Linked DNA regions of Homo sapiens. The protein of the gene in region 1 purifies or fractionates together with the protein of each later gene. This does not show direct contact. Each region holds a gene or a part of one and is shown on either strand. Other genes may lie near its edges.

Region 1 (3,811 bases):
TCAGCTTCTGGCGCTGGCCTGGAATGAGACGGTGCTGCTGAGACAGGTGGAGTGCGGGCGTCTCTCTTCCCGCCCTTCTGGGATGCGTGCACACCTTGTCTTCCATTTATTTTCTGAAGTTAACTCAAGACTCATGTTGGATTTTTCCAAAGCAGGTATATTCCTTTCCTGGGGCCTCAGTTTCCCCGTCTGTGAAGTGAGGTTGAGGGGGGGCTAGAATTGCGGTCCTTGAAACCCCAGGCTTTCTTAGAGATGCTTTAGGGTTTCCTTGAATATCTAATAAAAATGATCATTTAAAAGAACATTAAGACGTTAATACAGTGATAAAAATGTGCTCACCCACCTTTAAGTTCTTAATATTAACTCACTGGGTTCTACTAACATGCTAACTTGTTAGTAGTATGTTTTGGGTATCCCTAAGAATTTTCTTTGGGGAGGAGGGCAGACATTTGATAAACATTTTTTAAAAAGTTGAAAAACCACTGGGCTAGATGATCTCAAAGGGTCTTCCCAGCCTTGGCAATATATAAATCTGAGTTTGAGCTCCCAGCCCGCTTCTGATCCCCTGGCCATAAGAGAAGTCACCGTCTAAGGGATGAGACCCAGGTGTCTGCCTGGACTGTTGTGGCCATGAAGGGCTTTAAATCATCCCAGGATATCTATTACAGAACTCCAAGCAATGATGCCCAGAAGGAGCCTAACCCAGAAGGGAAAGGTTCCAGGGTTTCCCCTGGTCCACCTGGAGGAAGCTGCAGCTCCAGAGACCCCCACTTGCTTCCCCAAAGGACAACTTAGGCTGCGAGGCTCAGCGATCTTCAAGCCGGACGCTTGTTGAGTTCCACCTCCATGATTTCTGGCCACATCCATGTACTACCGCCTGTGCTATTACGTACATAAAATATTTTAACAACTTCATTGAGGTACAACTTGCATATCACAAAAACTGCCCATTTTAAGTGTACAAGTCAAGATGAGTAAATTCACAGAGTTGTGCAGTCATTACCACAATCCCGTTTTAGGGCATTGCATCAGCCCCCAAAAAGATCCTTCATGTCCATTTACAGAAAATTCCAATTCCAAGCCCAGCCCAGGTAATCACTGACCTGCTCTGTCTCTAGAAACTAGCCTTTTCCGGACATTTCATAGAAATAGAAACATACACTCTGCAGTCTTTTGTGTTTGGCTTTTTTCACTTAGAGAATTTTTTTTGAAGTTCATCCATGTTGTAGCATGTATTTGTAGGCTGTTCCTTTTTATAGCTAAAAATATTCCTCTGTAGTATAGACCATATTGTGTTTATGAATCCACCCAGGTATTCAATGTATTTTAAATTTAAAACGTCAACTGTATACCACCGAGCATCATCTCATGTGCCATCAGTGGTCCACAAACTGTGCTTTGGAAACACCAACCCAAACCAGAGCCCCTGGCCTGGGGTGCCTGGGTCCTGGCCCCAGTCACCACTGCTTTGGTTTTCCCTTGGCCCAACCAGGTCTTTACCACGTGGGAAATGTGGTCGCTGAAGCCGCAATGAGGACGAGGTTGTCAAGCGTTGATTTGGAAACCAAAACAAACATCTCTACTCTGTCACCACCCAGGGCCACTAAAATATCTTGTTCTGACTTTGCAAGCTGGGGGCTTTTCCCTGGAGTTTCCCACTGAGTTTATCTGAACTCAACAGTGGAGAGTTCCCTGAGTTGGCATCCAGGAGACCTGGACTTTAGGTCCAGCTCTGCCACTAGGTGCTGTGTGACCTCTGGCCAACCGCTGCCCTCTCTGGGCCTCAGCTCCTCCACCTTTACATGCAGGAGTTCCTGTGGGTGATCTCTCTCAGCTTGCTCTCTACTTTAGGTCAGTGACTCCAAGAGGCCCGTGTTGTGGCTGATCTTTCTGCCTCTGGAGACCACACTGTGTTCGCTGAAGCCTTTCTCTGTTCTGGGCTTCCCCTTCCCTCTCCTATCTCTGCCCCAGATAACTAGGGTCCAGGCTCCAGGCATAGGCAGCGCTGGCCATCCCATCCCCAGGCTTAACCGGTTCAACCGTTTCCCCTGTCTTCATTGGCTCCAAGGAAGGATGCAGGAAATCTTTAAGGCTGTCAAGAAAAAGGTCCCTCCAGCCTGGCAGCTGTCACAAAGTTGCCATGGACTGGTAGGGGAAGTTGCCCTGGGCTGGTAGAGGAAGTTGCCCGGCGCTAGTAGTGCTGGCCTAGCTGCCTATCAGACAGGGCGACTCTTTTGGGGGCCTGGTGTCCCTGTCCAGAAGCCTGTCCAGCCATCCTGGCCCCCTCAGGCCTAGTGTGATTTGCAGCTGGCTGGCCTGGTTCCCTCCCGTGCGAGTGGCTGACTGTATGCGCCCCCCAGTTGAAGTCAGCCTGGAGGCTAGGTTTCTTTTTTTCCTGGTGCCTGGGGTGATTGGAGGGTGGTTTGGGAGCCTGGAGAGACCACTGTGATCATTCAGCCTGGTGGCTTTCAGGTGGGCTTTTTAGAGCCCTGGAGTCCATAGCAGGGCGCCTTGGGAGACTCGGGGGACAGTGGGAGGCTGAGTACCTGAGATTTGACCCATGTTGCCCACCATAGCTCCATGCCTCTCTGACTCCCAGACTGTCCAAAAAGTATTCCATTTTAAAAAGGGTTCTGCTGTTTTAAAAAGAAAGAAACCGCTGATTCAGCTGAGTACTTTCATTTTAAAGGTGGGGAAACCAAGGCCCAGAGGGGGGCTGGCCCTCAGTGCTGAGCTGGACAGACCTTCCATCTGCCGTGCAGAGCTGGCCTCCCCGCCTCGACATGATGCCCGCATCATCCGCCAGCAGTCGAGGCTTTGTTATGTTCTTTCCACCTTTTTGTATGTCTGTTTTAAACATTTTTTTAAAAAGCCACTTTCTGGGATGGGAGGGACTTTTGTCACAGCTATTTCTGACTGTGAGCCGGAAGGGGCTGGGCTGTCGGCTGGAATGGAGGACTCCAAAAAGGGATGGTGGGTGGGTCAGCTGGAGTGTCCCCCGCCCATTCCCGTCACACCCCAGGGGGGCCCTCAAGCAGGTGGGTGCTGGCCCCTGAATGTCCCGAAGCCCGAAGGCTGCCCTGGAATAGAAAGCTGAGGGCTTTGTTCCCTGCCACTCCCATTGACACTTTCGTTATTTCTGAAGCTGGCACCGATACGGATTCTTTATTTCTGATTTTCCAGTGAGGCAGCCTTCGATGGTGGAAAAGGGTTTTGCATCCTGGCTCTGCCACTGTCTGTGTGAACATGGGCAAGTGGCTTGGCCTCTCTGAGCTGCCCGTGGAGCTCCCCGCTTCGTCCTCTGTAAAAGAGGGATCATCTTGTTGCTCTCCCAGGGATTGAGAAGGAACAAATGAGGTCTGGTGTTAAGGTACCTGGGGCTTGGCAGATTTTGGGCATACCTACCTCCACCCCAGCCCAGCCCCCTTCCCCTGGCAAAGTCTGTTCCTTTAATTTACAAGGATTTCTCAGCATGGCCCTGACTGCCTAACAAGTCCATTTCAGGGCATGTCGCCGCTCTCTCTGTCCCATGGAGGCGCCAGAGATGGTGTTGGGGGTGGAGGGAGAACGGCTGCTTCTTTGTCCGGCATCTAAGAAGGCTGTTTGACCTACTCTTAGCAGTTGATTTGTGCCTCCGGAAATCTCTCGCCATCCCCCAGCCCTTTCTCCCAACTTCCTTTAAGAGAAACACACAAACCCCTCCATCTAGCGCCTCGGGTCCCTTGAGAACTATATTACAGAATCCCTTGGCTGGGTTGGCATTCTCACTGGGGACAAATTTGGGAGCGATTCTCAGAGCCTCAAGCTAGAG
Region 2 (3,811 bases), on another chromosome or scaffold:
GTTTTATCCATAGGTTGTAGGGTTTATCTTTCACATGAGGAGCAGTTTCCTCTCCCCTCTGCTGAGAGCCAGCTCTAAAGAGGCATAGAGGCAGTAAAGTAACTTGGAGACAGAAGCCTGTGTCCATTTTTTCCCTTTATGCTTTTATTGTGTGGTTATTACATGCTGGGGATTGTGCTGTGTACATGCTGGTGAGCAGAACATATGTGGTCTCTCTTGTGCTTGAGGTCCAATATGAGAGACTTATTTTAAACATCAGAGAGATTCTTCTTTATCTTTTTTTTTTTTTTTTTTTGAGACAGACTCTCCCTCTGTTGCCCAGGCTGGAGTGCAGTGGCGCTATCTCAGCTTACTGCAAACTCTGCCTCCCAGGTTCAAGCGATTCTCCTGCCTCAGCCTCCCAAGTAGCTGGGATTATAGGCGTGCACCACCATGCCCAGCTAATTTTTGTATTTTTAGTAGAGATGAGGTTTCACCATCTTGGCCAGACTGGTCTCAAGCTCCTGACCTCAAGTGATCCACCCGCCTTGGCCTCCCAAAGTGCTGGCATTACAGGCGTGAGCCACCATGCCCAGCCTAAACATCAGAGAGATTATTATGTAGTTATGGAGACAGGTGCTGTGAACCCCAGGCTTGGGGTTCAGTGGAGGCCTCTCTTTGGAAGTAACATATCAGTTGAGACTTAAAAGTTGAGTGGAAATTAGCTGGTAGAACATGGTTTCTGGCAGAAGAGAGAGTGTATGTAGTCCTGTAAGAGAAAAGGAACTTGGGATGTTGGAAAGGTAGAAAAAGGCTGGTGTGTCTGGAGAGAGGCTAGTGAGACTGACAGGGCCTTGGGGTTCTAGAAAAGAATCTGAGTTTGATCCACAGGGCTGTGAGAAGCCATCAGAGCTTTTGTCTTATTCATTTACCATATGTCTGTCAAGTACCCTTCAGTGAGTCTGGTATGTGTCCTGTGGAAATATTTTTTACCTCCAATTTTTATTAAATTATGGACAAAAAAAGTAAGAGAGCCAGATGGGAAAGAAGTAGTGCTTTGGCCATGAGTCAAGGCATGCTCTGTGGGCATGAGTACAGCCTTGCTAGTGTGGAACTTGTGTTCAATGTAGTTTAAGGCCTTACCATAGGAGAAAGCAGGGCCTCTAGAGACACAGTGCCCCACCCTTCCACTCAGTTGGCCCCAGGAAGGGTGGCTACTCTGGGAAGGTGAAGGTCTGACTAGAGCAGCAAACTACTAGAGCCAGAGAAACAGAGCTGCAGTGGGGACTGCACATGGTGTTGGAAACAGTACAGAGCTCCTGGTCAGGGCACTTTGCAGAGTACAGTGGCTTAGGCAAGGCCAAGGCTAGATGGGGATTCAAAGGGTGGGGTCAGAACAGGCATTTTCTGAGTACAGACTCAGATTATTTTCATCCAGGGACAGCCCGGATGTGGGTCTCCTGTGGGCCTCAACTCTTGAACACTCATGACATGGAGACTGTTCTAATGAATCACACTGGTTAAGTAGGCATGGGAAGAGCCTTTCTTGGCTAAAGGGCTGGCCATGGAGCAGACACCAAGTAGTGTCACTCATGCTGAGAGGAGGGCAATCTATATACCTTGTCATGTCCTTTGTGGCTCAATTGCTCTGAGAGCCTTGGGTAGGAGGGTCAAGCTCTATGTCTTATATTTCCAGATGAGTGATGTAGAAGCTGGTGGTGCCACCGTCTTCCCTGATCTGGGGGCTGCAATTTGGCCTAAGAAGGTAAGTTCTGATTCTTGTGGGTCAGAGGTTGAAGCAAGGCTCAGACTTTACTTTGTCCATGTCCCCCAGTACCATTACCTGGCCTGCCTGATTGTCACTGTGATGTGCCTTAGCCCACCTGGGGTCTGACCTGGTAGCCCAGCTTCTCCCTGTGAAGAAAGGACAGGGAGGGAAGTCCCTTCAGGGGCGGGTGAGTTCCCAGACTTCTACCTCAGAAAGGTAGGTGCTTTCTGGGAAATGTCTCTGTTGCTGGAGTCCCAGAGCCCTATCCCCTGTCCATGGGAAAATGAGGGTGTTTCTGCTCAGGGCAGAGCTTCTGTGATGCTTGCAGTCAGGTCCCTGAGCACAGTCTCTTAAGAATGTGTTCTGAAAGGCCATCTCTTTCCCAGGGTACAGCTGTGTTCTGGTACAACCTCTTGCGGAGCGGGGAAGGTGACTACCGAACAAGACATGCTGCCTGCCCTGTGCTTGTGGGCTGCAAGTGGGGTGAGTGTCTTAAGGGGTAGTGTTGGTGTTGGTGGCCTCAGCTTGGGCTTTGCTTATTGGCCTTAGATTCTGAGCTGGGAGGCAACTGCTGCCAAATTTGCTGAGACTGTCTCCCTTCTTAGGTTTTTTTCTGCTGTTATTACCATCCAGCCATGTAATGTCCATGCAGCTGGTAAATGCCAAGGCAGCTGGTTGGAAACACTCAGAGATACACAGGAAGCTGAAGAAGGCCTGAGGACGAATAGCTGCATAAGCACCATAGGTCCAGGACCCTCTGGCAAGGCTTCTGAGGGAGCAGAGTGGAGAGCTGGAAGCAGTGAGGGGAAAGAGTGTCTCAGGCAAACAAGGCCCATATGGATGGAGGCACAGGCTAAAACCAGCATACGGGTGTGGGGGCTGGCTCCCTTGTCACTTGAAGAAAGGGAGGCCTGTGGCACAGGGGCCAGAAGATGAGGCTGGAGGCTGGGACCAAACTGCAGAGGCTCAAGCTTGAGCCTTATCCTGGGAGCAGTTGTGGTGAGCCTCGGAGAGGCTCAAACCAGGATATGACAGGAAGTGTTTGTAAGGAGATGAGTGTGTAGCCCCCTTGGAGAGTTTTGAAGATAAATAGTGATAGGTTTGCAGATAATTAAGCAAATGGAAAAGAAAACAAGGCAGTTGCTGAATTCAGGGGAAAAAAAGTTGTACAAGAAAGGAAATGTAAGTATAATCTACTAGATGGCTCAGGTGTAACACATGATATAATTATGTACACACTGAGTATTACTTTAACTAAAACTTATGATTTACCTGTACTGGAAAGGTGGGAGGGGATGAGTTTGTGTTTTAGGGGTAGAATAAAAGAATTCCAAAGTTGAAAGTCAAGGAATAGAACTATAAGCATCTTATCTAGAAAAATGAGGTTAAATATCAGAAGAAACAGCTAGAGGAGTTTAATGTTCCCTGGGAGTGGAGATTAGGGATGGGAAGGAGAGGCTTAGGAGGAGTGCTATTTATCATTATAAGCCTTGCGACAATTTTATTTTTTTCAATGAAGTACATGTTATTACTTTATATTTTAAAAGCTCTGTGACTTCAGTAGTGCATTGAAATAAAATTTTTATTCATTATGAGAGAGTCTGTGAGGAACAGAATCATGGTTCCTGTGTGTTTGAAGATATGGCGTGGGGTGATAGTGCTGGCAGCAGCTCTGTTGCTCTTGTGCCCATGGCATACAGACTGGATCTGCTGGTCCACGGCTCCTGAGGTTAATGTCCAAGCCCTCTGCAATGCTGACAGTCTTCCTCATCCTCACACCCTACCTCTCAGTTTCTACCTGCCACCTCCCAGTAATATTAGGCCTCTTGAGTCCCCAACACACGTCAGGGTGGCTTCTGCCTTGATTACTTTCTCATCCTGTTGTCACTCCTGGGACCCTCTTGGTGAGAGAACCATCTGGGTATGCCCATCTTCTTCCCAGGATAACTTCTATGTAGCTTTATATTCTAGCCCTAGGATTTCCTCTTCCCTCTAAGAGCAAGAAACATGTGTGCAGGTTGCCATGGGAATAGAGCCAAAGGGCATCAAAGGTCATGGGCATGA

The links.
Region 2: the proteins of IFFO2 (region 1) and P4HA2 purify together in Homo sapiens (co-immunoprecipitation; one large-scale study listed by IntAct). This does not show direct contact.

The regions. Positions count from the first base shown.
Region 1 is NC_000001.11:18,949,968-18,953,778, reverse strand, and holds part of IFFO2 (intermediate filament family orphan 2), read left to right. Parts: intron 1-3,811.
Region 2 is NC_000005.10:132,193,345-132,197,155, reverse strand, and holds part of P4HA2 (prolyl 4-hydroxylase subunit alpha-2 isoform 2 precursor), read left to right. Parts: intron 1-1,675; coding exon 1,676-1,744; intron 1,745-2,133; coding exon 2,134-2,230; intron 2,231-3,811. UniProt on the Homo sapiens protein: Catalyzes the post-translational formation of 4-hydroxyproline in -Xaa-Pro-Gly- sequences in collagens and other proteins.